2 linked regions of the Homo sapiens genome follow. The protein of the gene in region 1 interacts with the protein of each later gene in a biochemical or structural test. Each region holds a gene or a part of one and is shown in the gene's direction. Other genes may lie near its edges.

Evidence for each region.
Region 2: the proteins of PTPRN (region 1) and SNTB2 form a complex in vitro, tested with the Homo sapiens proteins (2 studies listed by BioGRID and IntAct).

Annotation. Positions count from the first base shown.
Region 1 is NC_000002.12:219,307,909-219,311,656, reverse strand, and holds the start of PTPRN (receptor-type tyrosine-protein phosphatase-like N isoform 1 precursor), read left to right. Parts: upstream 1-2,255; 5' UTR 2,256-2,324; coding exon 2,325-2,439; intron 2,440-2,686; exon of another isoform or gene 2,687-2,775; intron 2,776-3,748. UniProt on the Homo sapiens protein: Plays a role in vesicle-mediated secretory processes. Required for normal accumulation of secretory vesicles in hippocampus, pituitary and pancreatic islets.
Region 2 is NC_000016.10:69,302,134-69,305,881, forward strand, and holds part of SNTB2 (beta-2-syntrophin), read left to right. Parts: 3' UTR 1-3,748. UniProt on the Homo sapiens protein: Adapter protein that binds to and probably organizes the subcellular localization of a variety of membrane proteins. May link various receptors to the actin cytoskeleton and the dystrophin glycoprotein complex.

The DNA of each region.
Region 1 (3,748 bases):
TAAACCAGTGATCAATTTTAACATCACTAATAGAACAGTCAGACATCATGTACTTCCTGAAATGATGCAATGAGAGGCATTTTGCTTTAAAAATTCTTTAATTTGATACAGTCAATACTTCATATATAACTTCTAGTTTACAGGAAATACAGGTGATATACAGGTTATACACTGGAGAAATACAGGGAAATACAACATGAAGAAAAAAATCAGATAAACCCAGAAGAAGAGTTCTAAAGAAAAATTGACCTGGTCTATCAACATGACAATGTCAAAAATGGGGGAGGGGAGAGAGGATATGGTGTCTATGCTAATTTACAGAGATTAAGAAACATAACAAAGGCCGTGGTTGTTCTTAATTGACTGTTATTTTGAACAAAACACCTGAAAAGAAAAGGCATTTTTGGGGAAACAATCTGAGAAATTTGAATATGAACTGAGCATTAAATTATATTAAGGAATGCCCGGGCGCGGTGGCTCACGCCTGTGATCCTAGCACTTTGGGAGGCCGAGGTGGGTGCATCACGAGGTCAGGAGATCGAGACCATCTTGGCTAACACGGTGAAACCCCGTCTCTACTAAAAATACAAAAAATTAGCCGGGTGCAGTGGCAGGCACCTGTAATCCCAGCTACTCAGGAGGCTGAGGCAGGAGAATGGCGTGAACCTGGGAGGGGGAGCTTGCAGTGAGCCAAGATAGTGCCACTGCAGTCTGGCCTGGGCAAAAGAGCGCAAGACTCCTTCTCAAAAAAATAAAAAAAAAAATTTAAAAAATTATATTAAGGAATTATTGTAAATTTTTTTAGGTGTCATAACAGCACTTAGGTTATGCAGGAAAATGTCCTTATTTCTTGGAGATGCATAATGAAATATTTAGAAGAGAAATGTCATGATGTCTATCATTCATGTTTAAATACTAAAAAGAAGCAAATATTGTAAAACATCAATAACCATTAAGTATGGATGATGAGTATGTAAGTATTCATTATGCATTTCTGTCCTTTTTAAATTTTATTTTATTTTACTGGAAAGCAAGAGAGGAAGGAGATCAAATCTGAACTTAAGAAGCTCACTCCCCTACTTATTGGATGACTAGAGTGGAAGCAAAAGAGCAGTTACTAGCTGATTGCTGCAGTGGTCGTGGTGAAAGAGCACAGTGTTTCAGTTCAGGTAGTGAGGATGGACAGAAGTGGACTGATGGGAGATGTATTTTGCAGGGAGAAACCATAAAATGATTGATAGCCTCGAGGTGGCACAGACGGAGAGAAAGGAGAGTCAAAGCTAATGATGAGGCCAGGCCCGGTAGCTCACACCTGTAATCCCAGCATTTTGGGAGGCGAAGGCCGTTGGATCACCTGAGGTCAAGAGTTCAAGACCATCCTGGCCAACAAGGTGAAATCCCATCTCCAATAAAAATGCAAAAATTAGCCGGGCAAGGTGCTGTGCGCCTGTAATTCCAGCTACTAGGGAGGCTGAGGCAGGAGAATGGCTTGAACCCAGAAGGTGGACATTGCAGTGAGCCAAGATCACGCCAGTATCCAGCCTGGCCAACAGAGCAAGACTCCATCTCAATAAAAAATAAATAAAAGCTAATGATGACAGCTAATATGTATGGAGCATGTAGTATGCACCAGTCCAGTCATCCTTCTAAGTGATCCATATTAGTGTAACGAACAAAATCTTCACAATCACTGTGTGAGGCGGGTAGTAACTATTAACACCTCCACTTTGCAGATCAGGAAACTTGGACGCAGACAAGTTAAACAAGGTGCCCAAGGTCATACCCTTAGTAGATGCCCTGCTAGAACTGGAATCTAGGCATGCCTAACCATTTTTTCTTAAGGAAGAGAACAGTATCTTCAATGACAATGAGTAAGAGTACTTATTCTACCCACTTTTCTGCTTCTTGTCTTCGGGTTTATCGTTCTGGACCCACCTATCTTTCCTGGCCCCCCACTTAACTTAACCCTTTTCACCCACCCTGGGGCGGGGAGACAGAGGTGATCCTAGAAGAGGGCTACAGGGATGGGGCCAAGTGGGAATTCTAGCGAGGCGCCTACTATTTGATGGAGGAGGGATGGGCTAGGTAGGTCCCCCGCTCCGACAGGGCTCTTACGCCATATGTGACGCAAATTAGCTTACGAGCCGGGGGTGGAGGTGTCGTCAGCACCCGCCTGCGGTTGGCCGCGTTGCAGCGAGAGGGGCATGTAGACCCCGCCTCGTAGGGAGGTGGGGAGCGGCAAGCCCCGCCTCAGCCCCTCTGGCAGGCTCCCGCCAGCGTCGCTGCGGCTCCGGCCCGGGAGCGAGCGCCCGGAGCTCGGAAAGATGCGGCGCCCGCGGCGGCCTGGGGGTCTCGGGGGATCCGGGGGTCTCCGGCTGCTCCTCTGCCTCCTGCTGCTGAGCAGCCGCCCGGGGGGCTGCAGCGCCGTTAGTGCCCACGGTCAGGAGGAAACTTGGGCTGGCGGGTGGTGGGGGGCGGGGAGCAGCTTGGGGCCTGGAGCGAAACTCGGTGGGGGTGAGGGTGAAATGTCATGAAGCTCGGGGAGAATATGGGTTGGGGGAGGCATGCGAGATGAGGAAGGTGAGAGGGCGTCTCGGAGGAAAGGGGCGTAGGCCTGGAGGTGGGGCTGGGAATACGGGGGCGGGACCTAAGAGAATTGGGCTCTGGGGAAAATTGCAGGTTCGGGAGAAGGACACGGGGTGCATGTGGGCAGAGGGACTTAGAGACCGGCTGCGAGACCACAGGAGAAGCCACTTGCTCCGAGGCGCCTGGGAGGTGGTGACAGGCGCTGAGGAATGGGAAGGGGAGGTGGCGGGGAGAATGAGGGAACGGTGATCTCTGGGCAGTGGAAGCCTGGGCCGCAGACATAGAGTCCCAGCTGGGCAGAGAGAGAGGCCAGGGTTTCTCCGTAAGCCTAGAGAAGCTGATTGCAGCGATCTGATCTCCTGTAACGGGGGACAGCACGGGGAGGGGGCAGAAGAGGATGAAGAGGGGAGGGTCCTCTCTTGTCCCCCTCCCCACAGCCAGGCCTGGTGCTGACTCACATCTGTGCGGACAGAGACAGTCAGCGCTGACTCACGGACAGGGGGTGGGGGATGGGAGGGTGGCGCGTGGGGGAAGGGGCGCAGCCTCGCCGCCTGGCGCCCTCTTTCCCCACCCGGGCTTGGAGGCCCGAGAGGCAGAGTACTTCCTGTGACGCTGTGGGTTGGCAGAATACAACAGAGGGCTCAGGTCTAGTGGAGAGTCCTCGCTCTGTGACCCCTTCCTCTCTGGTAACCGCCTCCAAGGCCAGCCCTTGGCGGCGCCAGACTCAGAGCTTCAGCACCGCGGACAGCGCCAGCGGCTCGGGACAGCGCGAGGAGAGATGCCTAAGAGACACCCTCCCCAGCCCCACCCATGCCCTCTTTCCCCCGACCGGGGGAAGTGTGCTAGAACCTCTTCTGAGTTCCAGGCCATTATAGGATGCTTTTCCATATTTGGGAAGGAAATTCCTCTTTCAGAATTTGGCCAAAACCTCTCCTGCAGTAATTCTATGAATCTCTCTCCCTGCACCTGGAAGGTTTCTTCCCTATCACTCAGTTAAGCAAACAGAGGCTTTTAAGGATACAGACTCACAAATTCTTAAAATCCAAAACAAGATCCCATGCTTCCTTTTAAGAAATTCAGGCCTGATTCCTACTCTCCTCCCAGCTTAAGGCCTTCTTTAGAATGAAAGAATAAATTGCATCTGCTTCTCCCGTTCCCAGCC
Region 2 (3,748 bases), on another chromosome or scaffold:
AGCACACCCTACAGTGAGCAGGGTGATGAGACCGTGGAACAGCTACCTGCTTTTGGTTAAGATTGCCAGATATCATTAGGACACAGTAGCAGCAAGAATGCTGATTTTGTAGTGTTAGAAAATGAACTCAGCTTGTTTTTCCTAATTTTGAAGGTGGTATATATCTGCAAACATTTAAAATGGTATAATATCATATAAAATGTCAAAATTAGCACAGTCCCTGGATCTCAAAGAATAGGTAATATTGACTTGGATGTTCTTTATGCTCTCTGAAGAAAGGTCTAGGGAAAGTTCTTGTTTGCTTGATTGATCAAGAGTGCCACGGAAGAATGTGAGCGCTGTGGAGGGTGGAGGAGGGTGTCACTTCAGATGGGGCAGGCACAGGGGGAGAAAAGAAGAGAAAAACACACCTGTGTGCAAAATGAGCTATTTGGTTTCAGTGCGGCCTGACCGATGGGGAGGACCCATGAGCAGAGAGAGTTCTAGGTCAACATTGTAACTCCATTGTCCTCCTTCACCCATAAGTCAGTCCTCCTTCCTCATTACAGTGAAACCAACAATATGCAGAGGTTGGGGAGAGATGCCTGTTCTTCCCCCAGCTTCATATAATTGTCAAAGTTCCAAAAATGAATTATCTGAACTGCTTAAAACTGGAAATTAAAATCTAGACAAGAATATGTCTTTCAAGAGCTTTTTATGTTTTGAAAGTTCATAAACCTAAGATTGGCTCCATCTGAGATAAATTTTCTTTTCTTTTTTTTTTTGAGACGGAGTCTCGTTCTGTCTCCCAGGCTGGAGTGCAGTGGCATGATCTCGGCTCACTGCAACCTCCACCTCCTAGGTTCAAGTGATTCTCCTGAGTAGCTGGGGTTATAGCTACCCACCACCACACCCAGCTAATTTTTGTATTTTTAGTAGAGGCAGGTTTTCACCATGTTGGCTAGGCTGGTCTTGAACTCCCGACCTCAAGTGATCCACCTGCCTTGGCCTCCCAAAGTGCTGGGATTATAGGTGTGAGCCCCCGTGCCTGGCCCACAATAAATTTTCATTTCAGAGAAGGAAAAAAATCTCTTGAACGTCCAGAAATGATTTCTGGAATCAGAATTTCAATATGTAATACCCTCAGGTAGGCAATCTTGAACCCTCTATGCAGTGAGAGCATTATTAATATGAGATGTTGAATGATGCCTTTACAGACTTCAGCAGCAAAGCCATTTGGTTGAGGTTTTCTGTGTTAATGTGAAAAGCTAAGCCACTGAGATTTGCAGGGGAGCTTCTGAGCCACCCTGCTTGTTGGTTATATGAGGATGTAAAATAGGTGGAATTAAAATGTGAGCAGGAAAGGCAAGGCATGTGTGCATTTTCACTCATTTTGGTCAAGGTTAAACTGACATGTATAGCACTGAGGTCTGTAGGGTTCTTAATATCTTTTGAGTCTTGCTGTGAAATGAAAGTGTGGGAGGTTTCCTTTGTCCATTAGCAGCCCCAAGAACCAGAACCCTTTTGCTGCTTTTCTTACATACCTAACAGCTCTCCAGTCATGATGACCAAGGTTGTTCTTCAATCAAATGTGTTTGTGGGATTTTCAGTCCGCAAATGAAGTGCTCTCTAATGAATGGGACACCATGATAAATATGTATTTATATTTAGATGCCAAAGTATGGCAAATTATTTCCAAATGATAACTACAAATGGGAATTTTCGATATTCTACCTTTTTTATAGAACCAGCTCACTTTTCATTTCTTTTTCATTTTGAATTAAGAAAATTGTTGAGGATGTGGTGGGTTCCAGTGTGTGGAATGGAAAGGAAACTGCAGAATAGTGTCTGCTCCCCATTCAGAGGGACTGCTTCCTGTGCCCCCCAGACCCGGGGCTTCGACAGCTTCTCCACATTCCACACAGATGCCTAGGAGCAGCGAGTTGGTATATGAAAAGTCTCCCACCTTTTCTCCTAAAACTTCTCTCCTTTCTCTCCATAAAAAGAAAAGGAAAGGAACAAAAGAAAAACATTCAGTTTTTCTTTTTCTGAAAAAGGTAAGTCCTTTCCTGAAGTCATCAAATGAAACATTATCTGGAAATTAGTTTCTAATGTTGTATATGAAGAAATACTTAAATATAAGTTCCTGCAGTATTTATTAGATAGTTGTAACTGTAAACTCACCTCCCTAGTAGATAAGAGTTTCAGGTTAAATACTGGAACATATATAGGCAGTCAAAAATACTACTTTAAATGTCATTCACCTATTTTAAAGCCATGTTTTAGCACTTTTTAGGCCAAAGAAGGTCTGATAGTGCCTGTTTTTATGTTCTGTACTCTCACAAACTTTGTTACTCAAAATTATTGCATGGCAGGAGAGATTGGATTATTTATTTCTTATATTTTTATAAGTAAAAAAATCTTTCTAAACAACAAATACCTAACATTATTACTGATTGTTTTCCTAATTTATCCTCCTAAGTTGAATGGTAACAAAGCTTTTCCAGCTGAATGAATGCACTTAGCTGATAAACCAGAATTTGTTCTTTTTTTTCCTTCTTTTTTTTTTGAGACAGGTTCTCACTCTGTCACCGAGGTTGGAGTGCAGTGGTATGATCATAGCTGACTGCAGCCTCAACCTTCTGGGCTCAAATGATCCTTTCACCTCAGCCTCCTGAGTAGCTGGGACCACAGGTGTGTGCCACCACACCTGGCTAATTTTTATGGATTTTTTTTTCTTTTTTTTTTTTCGCCATGTTGCCCAGGCTGGTCTTGAACTCTTGGCACTCAAGCAGTCCTTCTGCCTCAGCCTCCCAAAGTGCTGGGATTACAGATGTGAGCCACTGCACCTGGCCCCAGAAATTATGCTTAAAAAAAAAATTAAGCTGTGTGGAATCTGGACAAGGCTATGTTTCTCCTAGAAACAGGTTTTGCTGTAAATGGTTTTGATGGGCGAAAGTGTGAGAAAAGGTTATAATAGATTCTTTTTTTTAATTTTGTGAGAAATTCCAGGTCTTCTTGCTTAACTTATATGCATGTGGATATATTTGTTTTCAAAGCCATGGAAGAATCTCTGTTCATATATTTTAATGCAAATTACCTTGTATGCTGCTATGCAAATTCTATTAAAAGGCCTACCTGCTTAAGAATTAAACATTTTTGAAACTTTCAGGGAAGACCTGTAGACTCAAGCACTTTCTCTGCTTTTTTGTATCTTATCTTGGACACTTATGCTGAATTATGTTCTTATTATTTTCACTGGTTATAAGCTATTCCTTGTACATAATATTTAAACTATCCAAATATCCAGCATACATTTCCATGTGGCTGCCATCGGCTGTTGATGCCATGAATGAAATGGCTGGTTAGAAAGCCAAAGGTCTTCTTTTTTCAATTCCTAATGAATAAGTAAAATGCCAGATCTCTTTGGTCTCAAAGCAAATTGCTCTGATCAGATCAAATATCTATGTAATGAAAAGAGACTTACTTAAATTTGGGATTCTGCTTAAACTTTAAGTTGAATTTGACTGTAGTCATTCATTCTTTTTATATATCTCTGTCAGGTATGACATTAATTACCAGGTGGTATTATACTCTACTTTGAGTTTGGACATCACTTTCAGTTAAATTTCTGTTGTTATTGTGGCTTTTTTTTTTTTTTAACCCCACTGAAGATGGAAGTAGAGCAGTCTGCCATCTCCTGCTGTTCTTTCTCTGTGCCCCCTAATTGCTTGGTAATCTAAAATTATTCTGACTTTCCACATACTGT